2 separate regions of the Homo sapiens genome follow, and region 2 is linked to region 1. The links come from fine-mapping of genetic effects on gene expression. A gene starts in region 1. The other region holds a variant in brackets. All regions are shown on one strand. Distances are between the middles of the regions.

Region 1 (16,038 bases):
TTCCTATTGGGACTTTGTAGCAAAATGTGCTTCAGGTTTCCCACCATGAAATGTGAAGCGAGCCAGGCGCAGTGGCTCACGCCTGTAATCCCAGCACTTTGGGAGGCCGAGGTGGGTGGATCACCTGAGGTCAGGAGTTCAAGACCAGCCTGGCTAACATGGTGAAACCCCATCTCTACTAAAAATACAAAAATCAGTTGGGTGTGGTGGCGAGTGCCTGTAATTCCAGCTACTTGGGAGGCTGAGGCAGGAGAATCGCTTGAACCCAGGAGGCAGAGGTTGCAGTGAGCCAAGATCATGCAATTGCACTCCAGCCTGGGTGACAAGAGCGAAACTCTGTCTCATTGCCCAGGCAAGGTGGCTCATGCCTGTAATCCCAGCACTTTGGGAGGCTGAGGCAGGTGGATCACAAGATCAGGAGTTTGAGACCAGCCTGGCCAATATGGTGAAACCCTGTCTTTACTAAAAATACAAAAATTAGCTGAGCATGGTGGCGAGCACCTGTAGTCTCAGCTACTTGGGTGGCTGAGGCAGGAGAATTGCTTGAACTCGGGAGGTGGAGGTTGTGGTGAGCCGAGATCACACCACTGCACACCAGCCTGGGCGACAGAGTAAGACTCCATCTCAAAAAAAAAAAAAGAAAAAAGAAAAAAAGTGAAGTGCCCTACTGTTGAAGAACACTGCAGAATGAAGGGAGCATAAAAAGAGAACAGGACATGCTGGTGGGGATGTTAAGTGGCATAAGTGTTCTAGCTGATATTTTGGCAATTTGTGTTGGGAAGCTTAAAAAGGAGAAAATATTTTGACTTAGTAATTCCACTTCTAGGACTATGTCCAATCCCTGTGCAGCAGCAATTCTATTTCTAGGAAATATACCTTGCAAGAATACTTGCTGTGTGCACAAAGGTATATACAAAGATACACACATTGAATTAGTTAGTTCTTGCACTGCTATAAAGAACTACCTGAGACTGGGTAATTTACAAAGAAAAGAGGTTTAATTGATTCATGGTTCTGCAGGCTGTGCAGGAAGCATGGCTGGGGAGGCCTTAGGAAACTTATAATCATGAAGGAGAAGAGGAAGCAGGCACATCTTCACATGGCAGAGCAGGAGAGACAGAGAGAGAAGGGGGAAGTGCTACACACTTTTAAACAACCAGTGAGAACTCAGTATCACAAGAACAGCAAGGGGGAAGTCCATCCCCATGATCCAATCACCTCCCACCAGGCTCCTCCTCCAATACTGAGGATTACAATTCGACATGAGATTTGGATGGGGACACAAAACCAAACCATATCACTCATATTCACTGCTGTGCTGTTGTAATAAACAAAACTATAACGGTCTAAATGTCCAAGTAAGTGTGGTGGTTTTGAAGATGTGTTCACAAATTCTTTGACACTTCTCTCATCCAGTCCCCTCTCTTGAATTCTAGGTAGTTTGTGACTACTGTGACCAATAGGCCGCACTGTGTGGACTTCCATCACTAGGTCAGAAAAAGCCACACAGTTTCTGCCTCTCTCTCTTGAGACACTTGCCTTTAGAGTCCTGGGTCACCATGTAAAAAATCTGACTGCCCTGAAGGGGCCATGTTGTTAGGAAGCTCCGGCCACATGGACAGGTAGGTGCTCTGGCCAACAGCCAGCACCAACCAACAGGCATGTGAGTGAAAATACCACCAATGATTCCATTCCCCAGTTATTGAGTCACCTCAGCTGCTGGATCTCCCCAGCAGAGGTCTCAGACATCATGAATCAGAGACAAGTCATCCCCATTATGCCCTGACCAAATTCCTAACCTACAGAGTGAGCGCAACAAGATGGTATTTCACAGGACTAAGTTTTGGAGTAGTTTTTTATGCAGCTTTAGTAACCAGGATAATATGCCATTGGTTAAATAAAATATGGTACATTCATAGAATGACATACTATGCAGCTGTTTAAAAAAAAAGATGGGGTAGTTCTAGAATAATACATATAATATTACCCTTTATACCTTCTTCTCAATTTTACTATGAACATAAAACTGCTCATTAAAAATTAAGTCTTTAACAAAAAAAAAAAATCTCAGTTATCTGTGGTAGTTTGTGTCAAGGATGACTTCCATCTACTCCTTCCTTCTCAGCACATAGATGTCATTGCTTCCTTCCGATGGACTCTGGGCTGGCCTTAGTGATTTGCTTGGGCAATAGAATATGGCAGAAATGACATTCTGGGATTTCCAAGACTATGTGTGGTGTTATGATATTTCTTGGTTATTGTCCACAGTTCCTGGCTAACCCCTGCAGCCCTTGTTACAGTCTTGTGTTAGAATATCAGGTGTGTTAGGACTCAGGGGCAGGCCACCTGCCCTCCTTTCATTCTAATGTTTCCCCCATTGGTCTGACTGTTGGTCTTAAGACGCTCCCATGAAAGAGTCCCATGCTTTCCCTGGGGGAAGAAATGCTGAAGTCATGAAGTGTCCATAAAAGCCCAGGAGGATAGGGTTTCGTGGGCTTGCGGATAGCTGAACACGTGGAAGTTCCTAGAGGATGGCTCACCCAGGGAGAGCATGGAAGCTCCTAACCCCTTCCCCCATACCTCACCCTATGTGTCTCTTCATTTGTATCCTTTGCAATGTCTTTCATTAAAAAACGGTAAACATTAGTAAGTGTTTTCCTGAGTTCTGGGAGCCACTCCAGCAAATTAATTGAACCCAAAGAGGAGGTCATGGGGATCCCAACTTGAAGCAGGTAGGTCAAAAGTTCTGGAGGCCTAGACTTGCGACGGTGGGTTCTGACACTATCTCCAGGTAGATAGTGTTAGAACCAAATTAGAGGATACCCAGCTGGTGTCTGCTGCTTGGTGTGTGGGGAACAAAACCCACACATTTGGTCACAGAAGACTTCTGTGTTGACAACTGCTGTGGTGTGAGAGTAGAGGAAAAACAGAGAGAGTTTTCCCTACCCACTATGTCATAAGAAGTGTTGCAGCTTCTGCCGGGGCTTCTTGCAATGCTTGATAGGGGGCAGCCAGACCTAATGTAGGAAGTCCAACTACCCTGAGACTACCATGCTGTGAGGAAATCCAAGCTAGCCAGGTGGAGAGAAGGTGCTCCAGCAGCCTCCAGTTGTTCCCGCCATTCCAGCCCAGGCACCAGATAGGAAACTGAAGAAGCTATCAGCAATTCAACCTCCAACCATCTGACTTCAACTAGATGAAGAACCACAAATGAGATGCACCAGCTAAGCCTGTCAGCCCCTGGACCCATGAGAGATAATAATCAATTGCCACTTTAAGCCACTAAGTTCTGGTGTGGCTAGTTACAAAGCAGTAGGTAACTAGAACATCACTTCCCTCCAAAAAAATCGTTTTATGATTTAATATTTAAAGCAGTATTTAATCTGTAAATTAAAAGGGCAAATTGCTTTATTTCAAAACTGTAAAACAACTTTATTTTGGGTTATGAAATAAATTAGTATGCAAACCTAAGGAAAATGTTTCTATGAATAGACTGAGTACATGTGTCTGTGAGAAAATCAATTAAACTGAGAAATGTAAAAACAAATTTGCAATTAGGGGAAAAAGTACAAGAGAATAATGTTAGCAATTTAAACAAGGATGTTTGCGTCCAGCTTTGTTGAATAACTCAAAAGGGATATTTTTAAATGTTGATTTCATAATCTGTCAAAAATGTTAACCATCTAACAAATGGATAGCATCACTGTTATATGCTAAGCTTTTGTTTCCTTTATGTTCTTTTATGGAAAGAAAATAAAAATTTACTTCTGCATTCTATAAACAATAAAAAAACGTATTTCAATCCTGAAAACATGATAATTACTAAACCTTTGTCTTAGTCATACTGGGCTGCTATACCAAAATACCTTAGACTAGATAATTTATAAACAACAGAAATTTACTGCTCACAGTTCTGGATGTTAGAAAGTCTCAGATCAAGACATCAGCAGATTCAGTGTCGGTTAAGGGCTTCTGTTATAAGAGTGCTTATCCCATTCATGAGGGATCCACTATCATCACTTCATCACTTCTAAAAGGCCCCACCTCTTAACACCAACACATTAGAGATTAAATTTCCACATATGAATTTTGGAGAGACACAAATACCCAGACCATAGTAACCTTTCATGAATTCTAAAGCCACTTGTGTGCCTACGATTTGCAAGTATTAGAGCTAGGATATGACTCAGCTCCTGCCTTTCAGAAACTTACTTATATTCAAAATTGCAATGCAATGTTAGGTGCCACAATAGAGGTGTGGCTGTACAAGGGCTAAAGGTGCACTGAAGAGTGCTTAGCTTTATCTAAGCAGTTCAAAAAGTTTCCTTGGGGAATGTGCATTTGAGCTGGGAACTGAAAAACATGTAAGTTTGTAAGGTAAATTGTGCATGGTGAGAAGTGTGTTGTGGGATAGGCAAAAGGAACAGCATGTGCAAAATCATGATGGTATAAGAGCATGGGGTGTTTAGATTATAATTAGGAGGGAAGTAGCTTGATACAGCTTCAGCATAGGATGGAATTATGAGGGAGCTGTAGCTCATGAACCTGGAGGGATAACTTGGTAATAATGTCATCTTCATTCATAGTGCCTGGCACATAGCAAGTGTTTCTTAACAGTAATATTTTGAGCATGTGTGTGTACAGATGCAGCCATGGGCTGCATTACAATGTTTTGGTCAATAACTTATTATATACACTACAGTGGTCCCATAAGATTGTAATACTGCATGTTTACTCTACCTTTTCTGTATTTAGCTGTGTTTAGATACACAAACACCATTGTGTAACAGTTGCCAAGAGTATTTAGTACAGTAACATGCTGTACAGGTTTATAGCCTAGGAGCAACAGACTATACCATGTAGCCTAGGTGGGTAGAAGGCTATACCATCTAGGTTTGTGTAAGTATACCCTGTGATATTCCCATAGTGACAGAATCAGCTATCAATGCATTTCTCAGAACACATCCCTGTCATAAAGCAACTCATGACTGTAGATAGATAGATAGATAGATAGATAGATAGATAGATAGATAGATAGATCCATTTATCTGTCTATTGAGAGAGAGAGCTGGAGGGAGGACATGGGAAAAAGAAAATGGAATTTCTAAATTGTTTTCATATAGGGAGGCAAACAGAAAGGGAAATTTGGGGTGACTTGTGGATATAATGGTCCTTGCAATAAGGCCAAGATGGCATATCTGCGGGGATTTCTACCTAACAGCTGATTCTTCATAACCAAGGAAGCTGTCCTAGTTCTCAGCCTAAAAAGATAATGATATAATATCTAGAGCTACTGACTTTTGGAGGATACATAAAACCCCAATTTTCTTCTAAATTCTTAGTTTCCTTTAGCAAAATCCCAGCCATGGTTATAATGGTAATCTCAGAATTTTTTAGTTGCCTCATTGTCTATGAAATAGTTTATTTTACTTCACTCTCCATGTTTACAAATAATTATAGAAGCATGTTTAAGCTATGCTGGGGAATGTGTAAGTGACTAGGAGGCATTTTAGAAATGACCTAAAGAAATAGTTGGCATTATTGAGAAAAGGATCATGAAAGCATAGGTAGTCTCACTAGCAAAATACTAATCTTACACCAAAGGAGATTTATAAGCATTAACCAAAACAGTTAGTGAACTGGCCTTTTGTCAGTTTTCATACATGCCAATGATTAACAGATAGCCAGAGTTCATTTTGTTTCTAATAAGCTATCAATGGAACTTTAAAAATTATGAATAAACTGACAAACTGTGGCTCAACAAATATGTAGAATGTTAAGAAACTTAACAGTACTGTAATTGAGCAAAAGGTGATAAAAGAATAGGAGTCACTTTGAACAGGAAAAAATCTATAGTTTTAGTTCTCATGCTAACAAAAATAACAATAATGGCTAACACAAAAGTCTAGCTCTGTACAATCACACACTAACTCTTGATTTTTTTGAATGTGTGATGAAAAAGAAATATAGCTTTTAGGATTTAAGAATTAAAAAAAAAAAGTAAATGGAATTGAGGCCAGATGCAGCTGGGTGCAACGGCTCATGCCTATAATCCCAGCACTTTGGGAGGCTGAAGTGGGAGGATCACTTGAGCTCAAGAGTTCAAGACCAGCCTGGGCAACATAGCAAGATCCCATTTCTACTAAAAATACAAAAATTAGCTGGGCATGCTAGCACACGCCTGTAGTGCCAGCTACTCAGGAGGCTGAGGCAGTAGGATCACTTGAGCCCAGGAGTTTGAGGTTGTAATGAACTATGATTGCGCCATTGCACTCCAGCCTGGGTGACAGAGTAAGACCCTATCTTAAATAAATAAATAAATAAAATTGAAATATGTGAAATTTGGACATTTGCTAATATGAATGTGAGACTGAAAGGCTTGTCTGTACTTGTTGTATTGTACTCTGCAGTTAGAACTTAAGATAACAAAGTCAAGATGGAACAGTGGCACAGGGCTATAAGTTTCCGGTACTTGGTTCAGTTCCCATGATCCAAAGTCTGGTCCTCAGAGTACACATTCAGAAACTCAATTCTGTAAGGTGAGTATCATGCTCAGAGATGGTAAGTCTTTGGGAAAATGTATCATCTCAGCTACACTCACCAGAGACTAAAGCATTTTTAACCTAAGTTCTGATTTATTAAATAACAATGGAGCCTATTATTTTCCAAAATGTCACTAGATAAGAATAGAATCAAAATAAAGGGAATTTTGAAAAATGTTTATCTAGGCCAGTGGTTCTTAACTAGGGGCAATTTTGCAGCCCTCCTCTACACCAACCCCTCCTTCCATGGACATTTGGCAATGTCTAGAGACGTTTTGGGTATCTAAGCTTGTTAGGGGTACCACTGGCATCTAGCTAGTGGAGGCCAGGGATGTTACGAAACATCCTACAATGCACAGGGTAGGCCTCCACGACAAAGAATCATCTGGCCCCAAATGTCAACAGTGCCGAGGTTGAGAAACCCTGTTCTAGTCTGTGGAAAAGCCACAAGGACACTTCTCAAGTAGCATATTTGATACCCAAGAGATTATATTATTTTCTATGTATGGTGTCTTTTCTAGTCTCTCTAAAACTATCTTTGCTATGGATTGAATGTTTGTGTTCCCCAGAATTCAAACATTGAACCCTAAATCCTTAACGTGATGGTATTTGGAGATGGAGACTTTGGAAGATAATTACACCATGATGGTGGAGTCCATGTGAATGGGACTAGTGCCCTTACAATAAGATGAAGGAACCAGAGCTCTCCTCACCCCACCCACCAAGTGAGACTACAGCAAGAAGGTATTCCTCTGCAAACGAGGAAAAGGGCTCTCAGCAGGAACAGATTTCATCAGCACCTTGATCTTGGACTTCCCAGACTTTTAGAATGGTGAGGAATAAATTTCTGTTAAGCTGGAACTGACTAAAACAATCTCTTTTCTTACAGGCTTCAAGTATATTTGACTTTTTCTCATTTTTATTGCATCCCTTTATTGCCTCCTTAAGATTATATTCCTACTCATTTTAGTTCAAACCAAGAGTCCTATATCCTCTCAGCCACACATTTACACATAATTTTTGGACTATTTCTTTGTGTACTTAATATTCATCCATTTTTATTGGTAGTGCCATTTTTTAAAATGTCAACCTTAATTTCTGATTTCAGCCTTCTTTGCTTCCATGTCCAAATAATAATGATAATTATATATATTCTTAATATTTTTAAGCAATCGACTTTTGTGGATCTATTAACATTTTATTTATGCTGGGTAAAAGAAATTTTAGTTCTGCTTATTCTCACATTGTATTCACACAAGAACCCTTTAGTAAAGAACTTCACACTTACAGTTCTTTGGCTAGTCTGCACCTCACAGCAGTCCACTTATTAGGCAAATATATCATTTAATCAATTATTTCTCTTTGTTCAAACATCAGTTATAAAGAACTTGCAATTTAGGTATTTATTCTGTTTCAGTTTTGAAACTGAAGAAAATCCCCTTTTCAATGATTTATACTTAAAGATAGTAAAAAGAAAGTTTAAAACAATTTACTTCAATGCTTTCTCAAAATAAAAACATTATTTTGATGAAACATTATTTTCAGTCTAAGTTCCAATTGATCCACAGGTTCAGTCCACAGGTTAATTTAGTCCAAAGATCACTATGGCAAAATGGGCCTGAGCCACACAATAGATTCTGGCAGGTAATCTCTTGTGTGGCAGCTCATCCATACTTAAGTCAGCTCCCATAGCTACACAATTTGCAGGGCCCAATTCCAGACACAAACGTGGGGCCCTGGTTCAACACTTACTGAGAGAAAATGTAGCGTCCTTCTGTTCTGGGGGCCGGGTAATAGCACAGGTTGCAGGCCCATGAGGCCAGCCCCAACTATCAGATTGTGTATTTACAATGTCAGTCTAACCGTTGCTGAAAAATACTTAGCTCTGTTGTAATCAGATTTAATTTCTCAAGAGGCAAAGTACACTCAACAGTTTGCTTAAATCAGAGAGACCAAAAGGAAAGATTTGCTGTAAATTATCAACTAGCAAATCTTAGTCAGTTCAACTTAATTTTTATTGAGGGAAGAAGGGAGAAAACAGAAAACTGATGGAGTTCCCACTGCGTGTCGGCCACTGGAGATTTCAAAGGTTTCTTGTTTAACTCAAGCTACCAAGTAGGTGACGTGGATAGTCTTGGGACAGAGGAGTTGAGGGAGTTGAAATTAGGCCCTAGTTTCTACATAAGTGACACGGAAACCCTCTGCACGAGTTAAGCGAAGCTACATCTCAAGTTTATTAATGCCTCGGGTTCTTGCTGCTGGCTCTGGGAAGAGTCTGAGCACGCACAGCAGACTGATCCCCGACAAGGTGACAGGGACTAACCTAACGCCCTCCTCGTTGGTCCTAGTAACCACACAGAGCAGAAACGCGGGCGAAGGCAGGAGTTGGAGGGGGCGCCCACGCGGAGGCTGCCGGGAAGTGCAATGTGCAAAGGCGGCGGGGCCATGGAGACTGAACTGGAGAAGAGCGGGTTCTCGGAGTTAAAAGCGAGAGTGAGTGGGACCGGAGGGGCGGGGCATCATATGGGCGGGGCTGAGGCGAGGCCCCGGCGGCCATCTTGAGCCCCGCCTTTTACTTCGGCCCGCTTCTTCTGGTCACTCCGCCACCGTAGGTAAGACTGGGTTCGGGTAGAGGCCTGGACGTTGTCAGCCTTCCTGCGGCTGCGGCACGGCTAGGCGTGATCGGGGCGGACGCCGAGTCCTGCGGTGCAGGTATCCGCAGGCACGAGCGCAGAGACGGCGACCCTGGGCCTTGGGCGCCACCATCCATGACAGGAGGCCAAGGACCTTTTCCCGTGACCCGGAGCCTCGCCTCTAATCCCTTTTCCTTCTCTGAGCCTCCAACCTAGTGTAACCCGGGGCGAGCGCCCGTTTACCTACTGCCCGCTACATTTGTACAGCTTTTTCCTGTTCAGAAAGACTTTCCTAGACCCGCAGCCACCGCGCGAAAATGTGAAGTAGATGTGTACGCATTTTAAGGAGGGAGCTGGCCTCAACGCGTTACTAGCGGCCGCCGGCGCCTGGTTCGGGGGAGTGTGGACCTGCTGCTCTAGGCAGCGTCCGCGTCGGGGCACGAGCCAATGGCGCGGTCAGGAGCACTCACCTGATGGTGCCGAGGGGAGCACGTGTCTTTGGAGTTTGACAAAATCTGTTCGGGTCGTAAAATGCTCTCAGAGCGCTGTGGGGGACTGGAAGTCATTTCTGATGGGGTCATTAGGGAAATGGGATTGAGCGCACCTGGAAGGAGAGGGCATTCAGGTTGCAGGAAAAATAATAGCTCATGTTTGTGTGTGTGGTAGAAGCAGCATTTTAAGCACTACGTGAATTAACTCATTTAATTCCCAGAGCAACCCTATCAAATTGATATATATTACTGTATACCCATTTTGCAGATGGGCAAATGAGGCATAGATTAGCTTGCCCAGTGTCATGTAGTAATAAGTGGTGAAGTCAGGGTTTGAACCCGGAGGGTCTGGCCCCAAAACCTGCTCTGAAACCATTGTACCGTGGCATTGAGTAAAGCCACCCGATAGCAACATCCAGGCCATCCTAGAATTATGCATAGTTGAGTTTAACTAACAAAATAGGGAGTGAGACCAGAAAAATAATCTGGGACCAAATTATAGACCATATTTAGAGCCATGTGAAGGTGTTTGGCGTTTATAGATGCTATATTTTTTTTAAAAAATTTTCCCCAGAGTTTAATAGAAATCCTTACCTAGGCAAGCCATGTGAATTTTTATGAAGGAAAAGAGACCCAGCCTAGGCAGCATGGCAAAACCTCCTCTACAAAAAATTACCTGGGCATGGTGGTGCCACCTGTGGTCCCAACTACTCCAGAGGCTGAGGCGGGAGGATCACCTGAGCCCGGGGGCCGAGATGATTGCAGTGAGCCGAGATCAGGCCACTGCACTCCAATCTGGGCCACAGAGTTTGACCCTGTCTCAAAAAAAAAAAAAAGAAGAAAAAAAAGACTGTGTTTGCACACAGGTAGAGTGTGACTGAAGTTTATATGGAGTTTTATTCATCTATTTTTTCAGTGATCCTGCATGGTTTTAATTTTATGAAATTTTAATGGCATTAAACTTGAAGAAAATTGTACAATTAACATGGTCTTCCATTTCAGTGACTTTCTGGTTCTCAGCGACTGGCCTAACAGCGAAAGGGATTAGTAGTCTCCACCTGCAGCAGCCAGGGGGTGATGAGGCAGTTCTCATCTGCTCATTATTGTGAGCTGGCGAACTGCGTTTTTACATATGACTAATGGATACTTAACACTACTGAAATACACACTTAGGAATGGTTAAGATAGTAAATATTATGTATGTGTTTTTATCACAGTTTTTAAAATACTAAATAAAAATGACTAACAATTCCACGTAGGCCGTATTAGGCTGCAGATGAGCTGTTGGTAGGGATCCGTTGACCAGTAAATTAAGTGGATTAAAACCCTAGGCTTTCATGCAGGATTGATCGTAGTGGGATGTATTAGGAAGAAAGGAAGAGGCTAAGTTTTAATTTCTTATATATAATTAGGATGATGGCAGTGGGAATTCAAAAAGAAGGTAACTTTGAGGCATCTCAAATGTAGATTAGGCAAGACAGGCATGAGTCTGAAAAAGAGAGGCAATGAAAAGAGGAATGGTTTGAAGGTGAGATGCAGAAGCTTAATTTTAGGTGTGGTAAGTTTTAATAGCTGGTGACATGTCTTGGTAGAAGAGTCCAGCAAGAAATGTCATTATGGGTACTAATGCTTGAGAAAGATTGGTTATAGAGATGCAGATTTAGATTATTTCACCCAGAAAATGTAGTTGAAATTTAGGGAATGAGGTTTAGGGAAAGAGTGTGAAGAAAAAAGAAAAGGGAGGTGGGAGGAGACAGAGTGAAAGGGAAGAAGCCAGATCCTGAGTTTTCACTGAGAAGAGGATTTGAACAACACAGTGGTGGTCAACAGCAGTTATTGGAACTGTAGATTGTTGGTTTTGGGAACACCTGTCTAGGTTGTTAAGAGCCAGTGGAATAGGACATCCTGGAAATGAAGAAACATCAAAATCCAAGGAATCTGAGAGAATGGGAACAAAAAAACACATGTAGAGATTTATGGAAAACTTGAGACACAGGGGAAGAAGGATAAAAATAGAACTCAGATTTCTGGAGGTGGATGACATTTAACTTTAATAAGTAAAGGGCCCTGTCTCTACAAAAAATTAAAAAAAAAAATATTCCAGTGTGGTACGCACCTGTAGTCCTAGCTGCTCAGGAGGCTGAGGTAGGAGAACACTTGAAGCTTGGAGTTCTAGGTTACACTGAGTCATGATTATGCAACTGTACTACAACCTGGGCCACACAGCCAAGACCCCATCTCCAAAAAATAAAAAATAAAGGGAAGAACAGTAAGGTTTGACCTTTAGGGGAATGGATGTATTATGCACTGAGAGACCCTTTCTTCTCCAAAGAATGTTGATGTTCACTAACATTTGGGAAAAATTGTGTAACTCCCACTGGCACTGTGAAATTGTTTTTCTGTTTTTGTTGTTGTTGTTGTTGTTGTTGTTTTTTGGAGGGGAAGGAGGAAGGGTGTTGTTTGGTTTTTTGGTATTCCACCCTACTCTGTCACCCTATTTCTCCCACAAAATCTGTTCTAGAACCTAAATATATATTTGTTCTAGAGCCTAAATGAAATCTACCAGATAAGTGACATGATATATACTATGTAAGTTTCCATATATATTTTTCTTACTGAATATCAGTCACTTCATCGTTCATAAGCCCACTTTTCTTATACATCCTTTCTAGTCACCCTAGTAGTAGTCCTTCAGTCCTCATCTCTTCCCTTCTTTCTCCCCATGTTACAAGTTCGACTTACAACTGAGCCAGATAGATCCATCTTCCTCTACTTACCTAGTCCCCACTCTTATTTTCTTCACTCAGGAGTTGACTACATCTCATGCTTCGAAATTACACTTGAAAACTTTGTTTATTGATTTAAAAAGATAAAAAACTTTCATAGTACTTTTACTTCAGCAGATGGTTTTGACCAAGTACCAACAAGCTTTATGGCAAAATAGGTATTAAGGTGGCCTGTGGCAAATAATTAGATTATGGGCAATTAAGGTAATTAAGTGGTGATGTGGTATCCCATCAGGGTGTACAGTCATTTACCTCAAAAGAAGAAAACATCTCTATTGAGAATGCATATGCATATAAAAGCTCTGTATAACCTTTGCTGTGAAAAGTATATCCCATTTGTAAACCATTGGTGTTTTTTTCAGAATCGCCTACCATTTGGTGCAAGCAAAAAGCAATCAGCAATTGGACAGGTAAACTTGTTTTATTGTTTATATGTTACTCTGAACATTGAATGAAAATACCACTAATAGCTTGTTTTAAAACGTGCTATTTTTCACATAGAAAAATTCTATTGAAAAATATAACCACCTATTATAATGTATCAGATATCATAGTATATCACAGTATGTCATATCTAGTTCTTAGTTTATGTCATATTTCTTGTTAAGCCTAACATATTTTTTTGATTTGTAATTAAAGATAGTTTCTAAAATGGTGGGTAGAAAAAATACTTTAAAAGCTTTGTTTTTTAAAAAATATTCTACCAACTTTTAAAAAGTGTTTTAATCTTGTTTCTTCTGGCCAAATGAAAAGCATTTGATTTTGAATTTTAAGAGCAGAGAAAACTGACAACTTGAGGTTTATTAAAATAGACGAATAGCAAAGATACAGACTCCTATGTACCAGATACGTGCTCAGTGTACCATCTTTTGCAAAGTGGATATAGTCCTTTCTAAGTTTAAGAAAATCTGGTTTCCTTGTGGAATAATGGAGCAAATAAATTTTATTTGTTGGTCTCATATATATGTATTAATATATTAAAATTAGTATCTCTCTCTATAAGTTCATTATTTAAGATAGGATTGTTAACAGTAGCTAAAGTTAATATTCAGTAACTAATAACATCTCATGGGAGTTTATTGTTTAAGAATTAATCTTTTATAGATTAAAAGCATAAAACTGAGCAGATGGTAATTTCTTTGTGTACAGTTGTAATATCATAATTCTATAGAATCAGTTATCTTAAAGTGTCTTAAAAAATGAGTATTTAAAGAACCTCTAGAGAGTCAGGACAGCATAGCAGTTAAGAGTAGGGCTTCTGATGTCAGACTTCTGGGTTCAAATCCCAGTCTTCCAAAATAAAACTATTTGGGTTTATTGAAGAAATTAGAGATAAGATTGAAACTAATTTTTTAAAGTATTTTATAAAGACATTTCCAAAATTAGCTTTTTAAGATTATTGTTATACATCTTTGAAAGAGTAATCCTAAAGCTCCAGCTGATTAGCATGTAGTAGTGCATTTCTCTGAGAAGATCACCAGGGTGGTAATACCTGTTCCTGATATCTAAAGCTTTTTCTTCAATATGTAGGACTTACTGCCTTATATTCTAATACAGTGTTTCTAGGAATAGAAAGGGAATCTTTCTTTGAGAGGTACATGTCAGAATCAGTGTGGTTTCCCTTTGCTTAATAGGCATTTATGATAAAGATAGTTTTCCAACTTTTTTCCTGTATTTATCATTAAAAGCAATAAAATATGTCATTTTACATGTAAGTTTAAAATTATTTTTACATGAAAACAAAAGATTTGTTGGACAGAAAAGAAGTTAACAGGCTTGTTTTACTTATTGGTTTGTTTTAAAAGGAGAAATAAATGTTGATCTTAAAGTTTCATATCACTTTCTCTTAAAAATTCATGGGATGAGTAATTGGATCTGGTTTAGTGTCTAGAAAAATGTGTATCACACCGTAAGTGTTCAGTAATGTTACATATTATTATTACCAAAATCATTATCACATCTTTCTTCCATTTTAAAATCAACTATAATCAGTCATACCAATTCCTTGACTACTTTGTTGCAGTTGATAGGCAGACTATTAACAATTTTTAATCTTCTAAACTAAGGTAATTAATTGGTAACTTATGTATTTTCTGCCTCTTTTAAAAATAATTTGGGGCAGTCCACCACAACGAAAAAACTTGTTAATAAATTAGTAATGATATACCAAAGTATGAAAGCTTTTAAAAGTGAGTAACAAGTGTAAATGCATGTATGAGCGTTAATCAGTTTCTTAATATTATTTACTGGAGAAAAATGTGAAAAAAAAATTCTAAGTAGAAAATAGTTGTATGTTCAGATAATTTATCTGAAGGCAATTAGTTTTGTTTCAAGTTTTTCAGTAACTAATTCTCTGGAAATTAATGAGATTACTCTTTACTAATAGGAAAAGAATGGCATTGAAGCAGATTTCCAGCAACAAGTGCTTTGGGGGATTGCAGAAAGTTTTTGAACATGACAGGTAACTATTAAGAAGATATAATTTTAGATACCTCATTCTGTTGGATTATTTTGTTCTATTTTAAAACCAATCTTTATCTAGATATTATAGTACCTCATTTTACTTTTAAACTTGCTTACTCTCTTTCTGTGGTTATGTATTTGACAATTCTACCAGACTTAATTAACTGTGGATGTGATTGTGTGAGGTAGAGCCTTAACAGAGAAGTATCTTCAAGCTTTGACATGATGCTCTTCTGAAACTTTATGAAAATGCTTATGTTGCCAGTAAAAATTCTGAAAACATTTTCTTTGAGGATCTCTAAGTGTAGGAAAAACACCTGGACTTTTTGAGAAAGATGGCACACTAAACACATGCATTTGCTTCCGCTGCCTCCAAAACTCTGACTAACATGGCATTAAGTAAAGAGATTAAACACACACGCACACATACATATACCTATAAAGGCATAAAGAAGCAGGAGACAGGAGCTAAGAATAACATTTTAGAAGCAGGAATACAAATGGAGAGGTAGTACCTGACTTAGTAAAACCTAGAAAGCTACATTCTAAACATAAGCAAGAAAACCTGAGAAATGACACAATTTATTTAAAGCCATAGTAATTGGAGGCACCAGGGACCCCTGAAAATAAGGATAAAAGTTGAGCTTAGAAAAAAGATTAATTGAAAGTCTGTTTTTAAAAGGAGATAGATCTGAGAGTGTCCCAGCTTTATGGACTGCCTCTTCCTAACTCTGGGAAAGATTGGAGGTAAGTTCTCTAGAGAAAGTAAACTGTTTGTACTGGGGAATACCAGACACAATTAGTGGGATTGTGATACTGCAAATAGATTAAGCAAAAGTTTGCACACTGAGTTTCTTCCACTAGCTTTCAAAATTTGGGGACTTAGTCTTATATCCTTTAGAAGAATTTCTTTGTGGGGAGTTTGAGTAGCCCAAAGGAAGAGATTTCAAGATACTGAGATTTGCCAACAAAGTAACCTAACCAGACCTTACAGTAAAGCAATGATTGACAACTCCACCTGTAGGCACAGTGCTTTCAACTAGATTTTTAGTGTTTCTCTCTTAAATAGGAGTGGACAGCTAAAGATCACTAGACATTTGTATAAAGTCTTTAATTTGATATG
Region 2 (16,038 bases), 33 kb after region 1:
TAAACTAGAACTTTTTATTAACAGCTGTTCCCAAGATAAACATTTAATACCTCTCTGGAAGGGAGAGATTGAGAACATTTACTGATTCATCAAAACCTTGGGGATTTCCTTGTTCTCTGAAGCGTCAGTGATATTTTTATTAGCTCTATTTTTATTTCTTAGGTGCTTAGAAAAATTCCCATCTTTTCCCATCAGTGACCATTCACTAGTTCAAAATGGGAAAAACAAAATCTTTGTTAGACTTTCATTTCTTTCGGTTTATTCAACCTTGTATTTTAATTGTAGATAGGGATAAATTATCTGGTGTTTGATACCCTTAGAAAGTTCTTCCCACCTGGAGTGTAAATTAGTTTAACCATTGTAGAAGATAGTGTGGTGATTCCGCAGACCTAGAGGCAGAAATGCCATTTGACCCAGCAATCCTATTACTAGGTGTATACCCAAAGGAATATAAATCATTCTGTTATAAAGATACAAGCACACATATGTTCACTACAGTACTATTCAATACTATTCAATAGCAAAGACATGGAATCAACCCAAGTACCCATCGGTGATAGACTAAATAAAGAAAATGTGGTACATATGCACCATGGAATACTGTACAGCCATAAAAAGGAATGAGATCATGTCCTTTGCAGGGACATGGATGGAGTTGGAAGCCATTATCCTCAACAAACTAATGCAGGAATAGAAAACCAAACACCAGGCCAGGCGCAGTGGCTCACGCCTGTAATCCCAGCACTTTGGGAGGCTAAGGTGGACGGATCACAAGGTCAGGAGATCGAGACCATCCTGGCTAACATGGCGAAACCCCGTCTCTACTAAAAATACAAAAAATTAGCTGGGCATGGTGGCATGCACCTGTAGTCCCAGCTAGTCGGGAGGCTGAGGCAGGAGAATCGCTTGAACCCGGGATGTGGAGGTTGCAGTGAGCCAAGATCATGCACTCCAGCATGGGTGACAGAGTGAGACTCCGTCTCAAAAAAAAAAAAGACCAAACACCACATGCTCTCACTTATAAGCAGGAGCTGAATGGTGAGAACACATGGATATATGGAGGGGAACAACCCACACTGGGGCCTGCCAAAGGGCGATGGGAGTTGGGGAAAGCATCAGGAAGAACAGCTGATGGATGCTCGGCTTAATACCTAGGTGATGGCTTGATCTGAGCAGCAAACCACCATGGCACACGTTTACTTATGTAACTGCATATCCAGCACATGTACTCCTGAACTTAAAAGTTGAACAACAAAAAAAGAAGGAAAATGCGTTAATACCTTATTGTAATTATTTTTTTTTTGGAAGACTATTTTTTATATTCAGAAGAAGTGTCAGAGTCAGCAGAAAGGGATTATTTCTCCATTTACCTACAACAATGGTTTTAAATGACTGGATAGATAGAAATCTCTTTCAACTTAACTGCTTAGCACATTGCATTTTTCTCTGTTTCATGTTAGTTTTCCAAAGGATTACTGACTTTTTACCTAATTTGCTAAGGGATGTCAGGCCTTAATGACATATTTCCCCTCACATAAAGATACAACATGCTTTTACTGTGTAGGAGGAATTGTTAACAGGATTTATGATGGCTGTGTTTGACTTCCCAACAATGATAGAACATTTGGGCATTTTTATGTTCTTTTTCTATATTGTTTGTGTGCTTATTTTGTGTTTTAATAGTCACTGTCTTACTGATGTGCTGCATTTGTGAATTGAAATGTCTTGCCCATGTTTCTAAGATCTCTAAATCCTGATTCTTTTCATCTTGGTTGATATGACAGTGTCATATCAACTGACACTGTCAATTGATAGTGTCATTTTCAATGACAGTGTCTACTCTGCATATTTAATGCACTCTACAGTGTTGATATGACATGTCTACTCTGCATATTTAATTAATGTGTTACTTCCACTCTTTACATATTAATGGCAGCATTTAGAAGTTAGGCTATGTTTAGAAGCTAGGCAGAATGTTTAGTTTTCCTTCACATTTTTGCTGCTCTTTTAATGTACAGTGAAAATGTTAAAGTACAAGGATGACAACCTTGATTTTATTATAAACCTTCCTCATACTTCCTTAATGTTATGACTATTTGTAAGCAAATTAAACGACCTTAGAGATATATTTAATGTTCCTAATACTGATGTTCCTGAATGGTAGATAAATGTCTTATCATCTCTTTATCTTCTAGGGTTATGATCATAGCTACTACTTCATTGCAACCTTTATTACTGACCACATCAGACATCATGCTAAATACCTGAATGCATGAAAAAACTCCAAATAAGAGAATCTCTTCAGGATTATAAAAGTTGTAAAATGCAACTGTATTGCTGAGCAAAAAAAAAAAAAATTCAAAACATTGGATTTTATAGTGCTAAAAGGGCTTTATTCTATAGTTGAATCACCTCTGAATAAAGATATAAAACCTACTTCTGATTTTAAAAGTTATTTTACAAGTGTTCACATAGGAAATCTTTAATGCTCTATAGCTTTTTCAGTGTCGTTTGGAAATTCTTGTATTAATCCCAGGTCATAGAATATGAATGTAATCCTATTTGAAGTATAGAGTAGCAACTCTGGAACAGAAGACTTAAAAGTAATTTAGCCCAGACTCCTCACCTTTCCAGACTTTAAGCCTCTGAAGACATTGGACTGTCTTTGTCATGTTCATTGTTGTATCTCTAGTGTCTAGCAAGTGTCTAGAAAGCAAATATCCACTTGATTTCTAGTGGATATTTAATAACTGTTAGCTACAGAATAAAGAGGTAGGCTCAGAAAGGTTAAATGAATTCCCCATCGTTACACAGCTATTTGTGGGATATTAGAAGACAGATTTTCTTTTCTTACCTATTGAGTCTAATATATTTGTGAACATTGGTTTTTGGGTGTATTAAGGTTCTCAAGAATTAAATAAGATTCAATCTGAAAATGGCTAAATAAGGAAACGTATTAGTTTCATATGTTACTGTAAACATGAATATTTTCCCATAGTTGCAAGCAGAGATTTAACTTGGTGAGCTCACCAAGAAAAGTAATATCTCTGTAAATACCCAATTGTTTTCCTTTAAGAACTTTTAATAGACAAACTTTTTGAAATGTGATAAAAGCCAGTAAAACATGATAGAAGCCAGTAAAACCTGGCTGCTTTAAAAATATATTTTTTTCTGTTAAAAAATAAATTTTAAACATTCAGTAGGAATGCATATTATGGTAACTGAAGAAAATGACATTAAGTTCCTAAAGTTATAAAATTAGTATTATTTAAACATCAGTAGTCAAGGTTGAGCCCTTGAATGAGCTGTACACAGAATGGTTCTCATTTAAACAGTCTTGTGTCTTCTAATAAGATCATTCATGAACGTTTTACATGCTGGTAATTTATTTGTGAAGAAAAACAATTGTCCCTAAGATCATTGAGGTTGAGGTTTAAACCAGGGAAGCAAAACTAGTAGGAGATATATACATTAAGATTTTTTTTAAAAAACGAGGAATTGGCATACCTGGATTAAGAAAATGTGGCACATATACACTATGGAATACTATGCAGTCATAAAAAAGGATGAGTTCATGTCCTTTGTAGGGACATGGATGAAGCTGGAAACCGTCATTCTCGGCAAACTATCTCAAGGACAAAAAACCAAACACCGCATGTTCTCACTCACAGGTGGGAATTGAACAATGGGAACACTTGGACACAGGAAGGGGAACATCACACACTGAGGCCTGTTGTGGGGTGGGGGGAGGGGGGAGGGGGGAGGGATAGCATTAGGAGACATACCTAATGCTAAATGACGAGTTAATGGGTGCAGCACACCAACATGGTACATGTATACATATGTAACAAACCTGCGCGTTGTGCACATGTACCCTAGAACTTAAAAGTATAATAAATATATATATATAAAAAAAAAAAAAAAAACAAGGAATTGGCATACCTGATTATGAGGGCTGGCTAAGCAAGTCCAAAATCCATAGAGCAGCAGTCAGGAAGGGACAGGCACAAGCAGGACGGACTCTGGGCATGGGCTCAAGCTGTTGTACACAGGAGGAATTTCTTCTCTCCTGGTGAGGCCTCAGTCTTGCTTTTAAGGCCTTCTGATTAAGTGAGGTCCACTGGATTGTCTCTCCTCTTTAAAGTCAGTTGATTAGGGACTTTATCTGCAAAATTCCTTCATAGCAACACCTAGATTAGTATTTGAATAACAGGGGACTGTAACAAACAGCTAAGTTAGTTAGTGTATCATTGTTAGAAAATAGTTGCTTTGCTTTTTTACACGTAAATGCAAAACATTTAAATATTCATTAAGTAATTGCTGATGAACAGCTAATGTTAGTAAAGACAAAGACCTTTAGTTAAAACAGAAATGACTGTTGAGGATAATAAACCAATACATTTGAGCTTGCTTTTTTGTGCCACAAATGCTGGCCTGGGGAGGGATGAGTCCTTATCAATGCCTAAATGTAACATGAGTTTCCCCAACTAGAAAGAGTTCAATCTTAATGTCTCTCATATTGTAAGGTTCCATCTCAGTGACATAGTTAACAATACATAACCTAAACATTAACTCCCAATGCTTGTTTAGGGTGTTTCTAGAAGTCACCTGACAATCAGGTATAAAAGGAGGTAAAGGAATCTGACATTTCCTGGATTATGTTCAATGTAAGACCCTTGTGAAGATTATGTTCTTGAAGAAACGTAATACTGTAAAGCCACCACCATGAAGAGTAAAAGGACAAGCCACAAAGTAGATGGAGATGCTTGCAACACATATATCTGACAAATAACTTGTATCTAGAATGCCTGAAGAACTCTCACAAATTCTTAAAAACATAAAATTTGGCAAAAAATTTGTACTTAACAAAATAGGACAAATATGGCTAATGAATGCCTGAAAATGTGCTTAGTAAGACTGGGGAAATACGAATAAAAACTACAATGCAATGAACCTACACACCCACCTGAATGGCTAAAGTTCAGACAATGGAAAATCCCAGGTGTTGACAAGGAAACATGGCGACCTGAATTATACTGCTAATAAGGTGCAATCTGGCAGGATCTGCTAAGGTCTAGTTCAACCTTAGCAAACTGGTAAGGTCTGATGAGGCCTCAGACCTTACTTAGCACGTCTCCTATAGCCTTTCAATGCATGTTTCTGTACTTAACAGGAACATTATGGCTACATGAGAATGTTTACAGCAGCACCATTTACAATGGCCAAAATCTAGAAATAACCTGAATCCATCTATAACAGAATTAGTAAAATTGGAGCATATTCATACAATGAAATATTCTACATGAATAAAAATAAACACACTATAACTGGATGCAGCAACATGGATGGGGTCTCAATCATAATCTGGAAGAAAGAATCCTGACACCAAATTATGTGCTATATAATAACTTGGTACCATTTTATATGCATAGTATTGAAGACAGGAGGTGTTACACATAGCAAGGCAATGGAAGGGGGTGGTGGGGGGCATTCTGAGGGAGAGGTGATTGGAGCATGGCAGGAGAGAGTACTGGTGATGCTATCTTCATCCAGGTGCTTGGTACATGAGCATGTTCACTGAAAATTCATCAGGCCATACACTTAGGATTTATAAACTTTTTAATATGTGTTATACTTTAATAAGGTTTACATTAAAAGTATATTAAGTAGTTATGCTGTGAAGATCATAAATATACTACTGCATGAAGAATTTAAAAATCCTGATGTTATTGCAAAGAATACTTATCTTGGGGGATACAATTTCCAGTGGCTACATCGTTTATCAATTCAAGTAATATTGTATCTCAAACCACTTAGAAGTGAAGGTGATGTGAAAAGTTGCTGCAAAAAGTGGCTGTAGGCCAGGCGTGGTGGCTCACATCTGTTATCCCAGCACTTTGGCAGGCCGAGGTGGGTGGACCACTTGAGGTCAGGAGTTTGAGACCAGCCTGGCCAACATGGCAAAACCCCATCTCTACTAAAAATGCAAAAATTAGCCAGGTGTGGTGGCAGGTGCCTTTAATCCCAGCTACTCAGGAGACTGAGGCAGGAGAATCGTTGGAACCTGGGAGGCAGAGGTTGCAGTGAGCTGAGATTGCACCACCGCACTCCAGCAACGGACTGAGACTCTATCTGCCCCCTCCCCCAGAAAAAAATGGCTGTAGTGATGTTACTGATATTGACGATGCAAATGAGTTTAGATAAAACCATGTCATAAAATCTTACAACAGAATATTTAATATTTCCAAGCTGACATATCTCAAGTATTTTTAAAGTATACATATAAAATCTGTGACAAGTAGGCATGAATTATATATTTAAAAATGTATAAATGTATTCGAATTAGCCAAAGTTTTGGATGTTATCATTAGAAAAATGCAGATCCAGGCCAGGCGCAGTGGCTCACACCTGTAATCCCAGCACTTTGGGAGGCTGAGGCAGGTGGATCACAAGGTCAGGAGTTTGAGACCAGCCTGGCCAACGTGGTGAAACCCCATCTCTACTAAAAATACAAAAATTAGCCTGGCATCATGGCGTGCACCTGTTATCCCAACCACTCAGGAGGCTGAGGCAGAAGAATCGCTTGAACCCGGGAGGCAGAGGTTGCAGTGAGCCAAGATCGTGCCACTGCACTCCAGCCTAGGTGACAGAGCGAGACTCCATCTCAAAAAATAAAAAAAAAGAAAAAGAAAAATGCAGATCCTCTCATGTTCAAGGTTGTCTTGTATTTAGGCACACTGGGTATATACAGTATGTAACAGATTACATTGTTTTATCGACCTTCTGCAATGAAAGCCACTTTAAAATTAAAACAGCCAGATTTTTTTTTAAGCTTTCATTTTTGAAGCCTAGCCTCCAAGTAATCTGAAGAATTGGGGTTTCGGATGAAGAAAGGAAATGTCACTGTTGGTGTTCCAGTGATGGGGATGGCAACAGCAGTAGCTAAGAAGACATTGGCAGAGGTTGCCGGGGGGGTGGTGGGGGGAAGTAAAGATGCAGCGATGGCCACAGCAGCACAGGGGACCATGACAAAAGAGGCATCCACTACAGTCGAAATGGAGGACAAAGTGTTAGAACCAGTAAGAGTTTCGTAAAGTGGCTAGAAACAATATAACTGTCTCAAAATTAGTGATTTTTCTATAAGTCTATGTTTAATAAAAATTATTTTAAAATGATCCTATTCACAGCAGCAACAAAAAACTACCTAGAAAGAACTCAAACCAGAATTGTATAATACCTCTAG[C/T]AAATAAAGTAAGTCTTAAATGGAAAGCAATATCATATTCATGGAATAAAACTCTCAATATTGTAAAGCTACAAACATACCCCAGATTAATCTACAAATGCAATATAATCTTAATCAAAATCTCAAAGTTGTTCATGGAGCTTGACAAGCTAATTATAAAATTTATATGGAAGAATATGCCAAGACGGCTTGAGAGAGAACAAATTGCTCTGCCAGTTGTCAAGACATTATAAAGCTGTGATAATTAAAACGGGTTTGGACTCAGAAGAGTTCATCCCATCAGAAAAGTCCTGCCACAGACCCACACAGAAATTTAGCGTATGTTAATAGCAATGTCTCAAATCAGTGAGGAAAACATGAGCCTTTCTGTAAATGGTGCTGCCAAATTATTTTTCAGTAGCTTTGTGGAGAAAGATATACAAAAGGAGGCCTGTGTAAAGGCATGCATTGCAGCCTTGTTTGTAATAAATACGAAAACAACCCCAAATATTTAAGAATCAAAGTAAGTTGGTGAAAAATTTGACACTGTTTACATTTTCACAAGCCATCAAAACAATATGTATTTTGCTATAGGTACAAATATATTTCATGGGAAAAGTTCTGAATGGAAATAATGAGTTACTTCTGGGAAAGAGGAGGAGGGCACCAGAGTTGAAAATAACAGCCAGAAAAGCTTTATTTTTGGTGGATTATATCATTTTTACAGAAAAAGTTATTCATGTATATTTTCAGTTGTAAAATACTAATTTTAAACACTAATAAATGTTGAAAATCAGAAAGAACAGTGCTTACACTCATCTGTGCCAAGGTCCAGAAACACATTTTCATGCTTCTTACTTTGTATTTCTGAGAACTTAAGTTCTGGTTCAAAAACACATTGGAATTAAAAAAAAAAAATAGAATTAACATAGCTGACTGTGTGAATAATGAGACTTTCAGGAGAAGAAACCCTTGTAAGGTCCTGCCTCCCAAAGGTACTTCAGGCCAGTCATTGCATCTTTCAAAGGCCAATTCCTCACTGGAAAGCAGAGTAAATAAACAAAAACCCCTACACTAACTCCCAGGGCTGTGTAGCAAGACAAGATACCCACATGAAATCTCTGTCATCTTATCCAGATGTTAGTGACTAGATGCATTAGGGCCATTGAACTTCAAAGTGACCCGTGCCGTCCTTCAGGGGTGCACAAGACCATCCAATGGACAGGATTAGAGCTTCTGTCTATATTTATTTTTATTTCATCATCTCCTGTTAAAATTTCTATTTTTGTGCATGCCTTATAATATACATAGCATATTGGTATGCTAATGTATACAATTATAAATTAAAAGTCATATAGTATGGGTGTGTGTGGCAAATGTGCCTCCCAAATTTCTTTTTAAGCTTACTTTTTAAACCACAACTTTTTAAGTGAGAGGAGACAACATTGTGAGCACCAACACACAGATTATCTATTGCGCTATTAGTTTCTACTCTGCCAGTACAAAGAATGGTTGGCTATAGAAATAAAATATTTTCCTCGAAGAGAGAACATAGTTTGTAAATTTCTCATCCTTTCATAGCCCTGCTAGTCCAAGAGAAAATGTCTTTTGCTTATCAGATATATATTTTTTTATTTGTTGTTGTATTTGGCCCAACTCTGGGATTCCAATCCATGACCAGTGAATTTTCGATTTCATTTGTGTCTCTTTGGCACCAGGTGGCAGCTTCTGTCTCTAACGACACTTAATGAGCTTCACTTTCTGGTGATAGTACATAAAGAAAATAGAGTTCTAGCACTTTCTTTGTTGGATGATAATAGTATACTCAACCAAATAAAGTAACATTTTCATCTTATTGGGCTTATTAGAAAAATTCAAATACCCCTAAAAATGAGGCATGGAGCTGGGAAGTGGGTGAGGCAAGGGACTTTTTTTTTTCCAATTTATCCTAGATATTATTTTGGGCATTCTGGTTTTGGGGTGTATTATTTTGTGTGTGTGTGTGTGTGTGTGTGTGTGTGTGTGTGTGTGTGTGTGTGTGTGTGCATTTAAACCCTGCATTTAGAGTTGTAATATTGACCCCAGGCTGTTCACGTGGTTGATTGAAGGCAGATTGCCTTATTAGTCATTGCTGGTTCAATGGGATTAATATTCCTTAAAGAGGAAAGCCTTTTCCTTTTGGGTCTCTTCTGAAAACATTTGAGTAAAAACACTGCCACCCAGTGTTTCTTTTAGGAGAAGCACAATAAATATACCGTGCACTCTTAAAAAGTTTTCTAGGATGAATAGCAAATCACCCATTTTCTTAGTTATATTCAAATAAGACCTGACAGACGACAGAACATGCCCTGCTTTAAATGTAAAATAGGCCGGGCTCAGTGGCTCACAACTGCAATCCCAGCACTTTGGGAGGCTAAGGTAGGAGGGTTGCTTAAACAGGAGTTTGAGACCAGCCTGGGTAACCATGAGACACTGTCTCTACAAAAAATAGAAGAAAAAAAAAATTAGCTGGGTATGGTCGTGTGTGCCTATAGTCCCAGCTGCCTAGGAGGTTGAGGTGGGAGGATTGCTTGAGCCCAGGAGATCAAGGCTGCAGTGAGCCATGACTGCACAACTGCACTCCAGCCTGGGTAACAAAAAAAGACCCTGTCTCAAAAATAAAAATAAAATATTCCAGCCCATATCATGCTACGTAATGCAGAGAGGCTATCCCAGATGTTGGAATGATTGTTTGATTTTCAAGCATGAATTCTAAGACGATCCTGCAAATATTCCAGCCTTACGTAATCATTCTGACCTGGATCATGGCAAAAAGACCAGGCTAAGGGCTTTGTCACCATTCGAATCCTCCCTCAACCTTTCTGCTGCAGTCACAGTTGTTTTCATCCAGCCCTCAAGAAGTGCTCTCCAGGCCGGGTGTGGTGGTTCACACCTGTAATCCCAGCACTTTGGGAGGCCAAGGCAGGTGGATCACTTGAGGTCAGGAGTTTGACACCAGCCTGGCCAACATGGTGAAACCGTCTCCACTGAAAATACAAAAATTAGCTGGGTGTGGTGGTGCACGGCTGTAATCCCAGCTACTGGGGAGGCTGAGGCAGGAGAATCACTTGAACCCGGGAGGCAGAGGTTGCAGTGAGCTGAGATCGTACCAGCCTGAGTAACAGAGCAAGACTCCAACTCAAAAAAAAAAAAAAAAAGTTCCTGTCCAGTACAGTTCAAGGCAGCCTTAGGTAGCAGCTCCCTTTTGCAGGGCCCACATCTGGAGAAACCTGTGTCCTCCCGCCTGGTCTCTTTGCCCTGCCACCCCACAGGCTGTGCATTTGCCCACCTCTTCTCTTCTGCCCTCCTCGTTCCCAGGGGAGGGGAAGGTGGGCAAATGCACAGCATTCCAACATCTTTCTCTGAAAGTTTCTGGCCTCCTCACCTCTTCTTGTATTCTTCATAGAGCCTGTTGGACAGAAGTGGGATTTGCATCCTCTTTGCGATGAACAAGCACCTTGTTTTTGGAAGGTGGTGGAACAGAGCGCCCATTATTTTGGGACCTCTGCTATAACCATAACATCGTTTACACACATAAGTAAAAGAGAGATAATGACAATAGGACCTACATCCTAGGGTCATAGAGGATCAAATGAAACAACCCAAGTAAAGCCTTGAGCTATTTACTCATCTTTTTTTAATTATTAGATATTTGGTCAGTGACTTGGTAAATAGAGGAAGATGTTATAGCATAATCGTTAAAAGTGTGGGTTCTAAGACAAACTCCAGGAGTTGAATCCCAACTACGCCACTTAGTATTCATGGGACCTTGAACAACTGACCTCCCTGTGAGATGGGGATGATTGTAGATGTTATCTCACAGGGTTCTTGTAAGATGTACAGGCATTGCTACTTGTACACCTCCTGAACAGTGCCAATTAGGTAGTAGCCACTCATATTAGTCAGGGTTCTCCAGAGAAACAAGATCAATAGGATATATATAGAGAGAGAGATGGATGACAGGGGATTTGTTAGAGAGATTGGCTCATGTGATTATGGAGGCTGAGGAGTTCCACGATATGCCATCTGAGAGCTGGAGAACCAGAGGAGCTGGTAGTGTGGCTCAATCCAAGTCTGAAGGCCTGAGAAGCAGGGAAGCCAGTGGTGTCACTCTCAGTCTGACGCCGGAGACTGGGAACCTGGGGGACTGCAGGTGCAAGTCTTGGGGTCCAATTGTCATGTAGTTCCTATTGTCATTTTCTCTCTTTTACTTATGTGTGTAAAAGGATGTTATGTTGGCGCTCCTTCTATCCTAGTTCTAGCAGAGGGCTGGAGAACCTGCAGTTCAGGAGAACAGGAGAAGCCAGTGCCCCAGCTTCAGGAGAAACAGAGAATTCACCTTTCCTCTGCCTTTCTGTTCTATCTGAGCCCTTGGCCGATTGGGTGGTGCCCGCCCTCATTGGTGAGGGCAGGTTTTGTTTACTCAGTTCACTGACCCAAATGCCAGTCTCCTCCTGGAGGCAGCCTCACAGACACACCCAGAAATTATGCTTTACCAGTTATCTGGGCCTCCCTTAATCGAGTCAAGTTAACACCTAAAATCAACCATCACACCACTCGATAAGCATTGGGTATTGTATTTAGTTTTCCTCATCACTTATATCCATGACTTCCCTTATTTAGATTCCTGTAAGAAAAATGAACTATTGTGGGGTCTTTTCATGCTCTTTCCCCATTGAAATTATTATTTGTCTAATACGAGCTCGATAAAAGAGGTTTATTGAGAAATGAACATAAAGCAGACACAGATTATTTTTTCAGGGGTGCCAAGGTGAAAGAAATAATCTGGAGGGGATGGGGAAAAAACTCACCAAAAAGGAGACATTGTCCGTAAGTCTTGAAGGCTCAGTAGCACTTCATAAAGTCAAGAAGAGGTGAGCGGGTATTCCAAGGAGCAGGCGTAGCACAGGGAACAAAGACATGGGAGCACCTGGAAAGAGGAGACTGGAGTGGCTGCAGCAGAGGGTGTTAGCAGTAGGACGGAAACAGTCTGGGAAGGGCAAGCATAGCACCAAAATCAATTGTGTGAGTAATAGTAAAGTGCTGAATATGTTTCCAGTAGGGAAGAGACATGATAAGACTTGCTTTTTCTAAATATTATTGTAGCAGCAGAGAAGGGAGGAAGAAGAGGAGGGAGACAAGGTGACAAATGAGCCATTGACCACTTACCCAGGGTGAGCTGATCAGGGCAGGCGCTAAGGTAGCAGGGAGAAAGAGGAGAGGCTGGGGCTGAGAGATGTTTCTGAGGGAGGATCTGCGGGGCTTAGTGACAGACTGAAAAGGACAGGAACACATCAGTGGTCATCCTGCAGTGTCTAGCTTGGGAGGCTGGGAAGATGATGAAATCACTGAACCGGGAAACGCATATAAAGAAGGAGTTTGGGGAGGTGCAGAGGGAGGTCAATTTTAAACATATTTGCAGGACCCATAGGACATCCAAGTGAAGATACCCAGAATGGACCTAGCATTGTGAAGATATACAGAGTTATAAGTTACCTAGGCTGGTGGACACCACCAGAGATCTTCAGCATGGATGGAAGAGTGCCAAGCATTTCATTTCCAGGAGGGCAGGGGTTGGGCACAGAAACAGAAGCCTATGAAGAAGATGGAAAAATAAAAACATTGAGATAAAAATTGTACTAAGAGAGAACTGGCTTTCAAGAAGCAAGTTTTCAATGATCTCATATGCCACAGGAAGGTCAAATAGAACAAGGACTGAAAAGAGGCCATTGGATCTGGCAACTGAGATGTGGGACCCATGACCAAAAAGTATTTTCAATGAAGTGGTATGGTTAGAAGAAGAAATGAAGGCATTTGTCCATTCATTTATTCAACAAATATTCATCAAGCACCTATTATATATCAGGCCATGTTCTAAGCCTTGAGGATATGGTAGTAAACAAAACCAAGACCTCTATTCTTTCTAAGTTTACACTCCAGCATTGCTTATAGAATACTCTTTAAAGAACTTAACAGGGAGAGGAGAAACTAGACAGTATTTTGAGGGAAAAGATGAAGTCAAGAAAAGTATCTTTCTTATAGCCTGGTAATGTTTGAATTTGTGGCTGAATAATTAAACTATAGGTGGAGAGGAGAGGGTGGAGGAGGAGATCAAGAGACAAAGAGAGAGAGAGAGAACAAATAACATAAAATCTCCCAAGGCTGTGGAGTTGGCATCTAACCTTGGGAGGGAGAAGTGCCATCTACTCCTCCAAGACAGGAAATAAGTTGACACTTCACTGCTGAGGCCCTCATTTTCCTTGTAAATTAAGAGGCAAGCTGGGGACAGACTGAACGAGATTTGAGACAACACTTTGGAAGAGCTGAAGCAGGAAGCAGGAAAAGAAGCCAACGGCACAAAGTCAATATTCAAGCAGAGTTCTGCCCAGTTAAGCAATAAAATTATGTGGCAAGGAGTTCTGTTACCTCACCACCTACACATTCAGTCTAACTAGAGGCTGTGTGGAGTCTTCCAAGGCAGTAGACATGTCTTCTCCCCTTCCCCTTCCTCTGGCTTTTGTGACTGTAGCAGATGTCTATGTGGAAATCAACTTAGAGGACAGCAAATTTTTTTTTTTTTTTTTTTTTTTTTTTTGGAGACAGTCTTGCTGTAGTCACCAGCTATCTGGGACTACAGCACGAGCCACCATGCCCCTGCTAATTTTTGTATGTTTTGTTTGTTTGTTTTTGTAGAGGAGGGGTTTTGCCATGTTGCTCAGGCTGGTCTCAAACTCCTAGGCTCAAGTGATCCATCACCCTCAGTCTCCCAAAGTGCTGGGATTATAAGCATGAGAAACTGTGCCTGGCCTTTTTTTCTCAGAGAAAAGCGATAGTTGTGTCTTAGTCTGTGTGCATTGTTATAAAGGAATACCTGAGGCTGGGTGATTTATAAAGAAAGGAGGTTTACTTGGCTCGGGGTTCTACATGAAGCATGATGTCAGCATCTGCTGCTGGTGAGGGCTTCAAGCTGCTTCCACTTATGGTGGAAGGTGAAGGGGAGCCTGTGTGCAGAGATCACATGCCAAGAGTGAAAGCAAGAGAGAGGGGGAAGGTGCCAGCCTCTTTTCAACAACCAATTGTGACAGGAACTAAGAGTGAGAACTCACTCCTGGCAGAATGGCACCAAGCCATTCATGAGAAACCCACTCCCATGATCCAAACACCTCCCACTATGCTCCACCTCCAGCGCTGGGATGAAATTTCAACATGAAACTTGGTAGAACCAAACAAACCATATCTAACCTATAGCAAGTTGTTAGGAGAGTTTATTGGCCAAGTACCCCATTTTATTTACTTTGGCATTCCTAGTCACATTGGAAAGCGGCAGCCTATCCGCTATTCCTCCCCAGTCTCATCCCCACCTTGCCCCATTTTATGACTCACAAGTACCAATATGTTGCTCACTGCCTTTAAATGCTCAGTGACTTCTTATCATGGGTGTTGCTGACCCAATTTATCTTTGCAACCAGCATTAAAAAGCACAGAGCATAATGGTCAGATGGATTTTCTATAGGTAACTGCCTGCCATGACTTTGGTGTCATCGCCTCTCTCACCTTGTCAGTAAATGTCACTTTACCTTCATCCAGATGATGACTGTCTTGCATTCTCGATGACGCTGTGCTTCACGCAGCGATCCTCAGCTCCAGACCTGCCTGACAGCATCCTCTGCCCATAAACACACGTACTTCTGAAAAGAAAGATCTACAGGTAGGACACAGCTGTCTTAGCCCTGGGTTTGTACTGACACAGATTTCCAGCCTACTTATTTAGACAGTCTTTCTCAAGTGTTTGCTGGGCTTTCTTATTATTCATATATAAACAGAAATTAGTGTGTGGCATCACTTTCTGTCTTTTTACTTTCAGTCTATGCCCTTATATCTCGTTGTGTCTGTAAATATATAGTTGCTTTTCTTGGAAATCCAATCTGCCTTTCAGCTATCTAGTTTCTTGCTATTTATCATGCTTGCTGATGTATCTGAGTTTATTTCTGCTCTGTTATTTGGGTCCCTTCCTTTACTCTGTTCCTTCTGCTTCTTCTCCCCAGTCTACATCCTTCCTTACTTTTGGAAGGGACTTTCTAACTTTATATTCTTCTCTTTACTGATCTGAAAGTGATAGACACTCTTGTCTTTTCATTAAAGTTTTAACATTTACATTTAACATGATTGAAAATGCAACAATGCATCTACCCTCCTCCAAAATAGCAAGAAACTGAAATATTTTAACTGAGATCAAGCCTTTTCATCTTGTATGTAGTACTGGCCAGCATTTTCTTTCTATTTTTGTTTTGTTTTGCTTTTCAGCAACTCCTACCCTAAATTAGCCATTAATGTCATTAACGTACAGCCAATGTTTGTTTGGATATGCACACATAGTTACATGTTTATCTTTTGGCCACTGTTTTTTTTTTGTGGGGGGGGCGGTTAGACCTTCCTTCTCCCTGAAATACATCATTCAGTGAAAGTGTGTTGATAGTGAATTACGTTTTTGTTTGTCTGAAAATATTAAGCTATTTTCTCTCAGTTCTTTCTTCCTTCCTTTCTTTCTTTTCTTCTTTTTCTTTCTTCCTGTCTTCCTTTTCTTTCTTCTCTTTCTTTTCTTCCTTCCTTTTTTCTTTTTCCTTCTTTCCCCTTCCTTCCTCCCTTCCTCCCTGTCCCTCTCTTCTTTCTCTCTCTCTCTCTTTCATTCTTTTCTTTTTCTTTCTTTCTCTTTCTTTTCTGTCTTTTGAGACTGAGTCTCACTGTATCACCCAGGCTTGAGTGCAGTGGCACGATGT

Direction of the effects. Positions count from the first base shown, and alleles are read on the strand shown. Sizes are in standard deviations (SD) of each study's normalised expression.
For the expression in amygdala of the gene that starts at base 9,098 in region 1, allele C in region 2 goes with a lower level than allele T (small effect, 0.29 SD a copy in GTEx).

The links.
Region 2: its variant is fine-mapped to the expression of ESD in amygdala (GTEx, PIP above 0.99).

Annotation. Positions count from the first base shown.
Region 1 is chr13:46,790,221-46,806,258 of GRCh38, reverse strand. ESD (esterase D) reads left to right here and starts at 9,098. Exons shown (of 10, transcript NM_001984.2): 1 at 9,098-9,154; 2 at 12,815-12,862; 3 at 14,839-14,913. The coding sequence starts at 14,846. RefSeq lists enhancers at 9,181-9,230, 9,362-9,963 and a silencer at 9,541-9,590.
Region 2 is chr13:46,757,654-46,773,691 of GRCh38, reverse strand. It overlaps ESD (esterase D), which reads left to right. Exons shown (of 10, transcript NM_001984.2): 10 at 2,196-2,436. The coding sequence ends at 2,276. LOC107984563 (a long non-coding RNA gene) reads right to left here and starts at 13,534. Exons shown (of 3, transcript XR_001749983.2): 1 at 13,444-13,534; 2 at 12,758-12,855; 3 at 12,060-12,191. The variant C/T (reference allele first, on the strand shown) is at 7,244.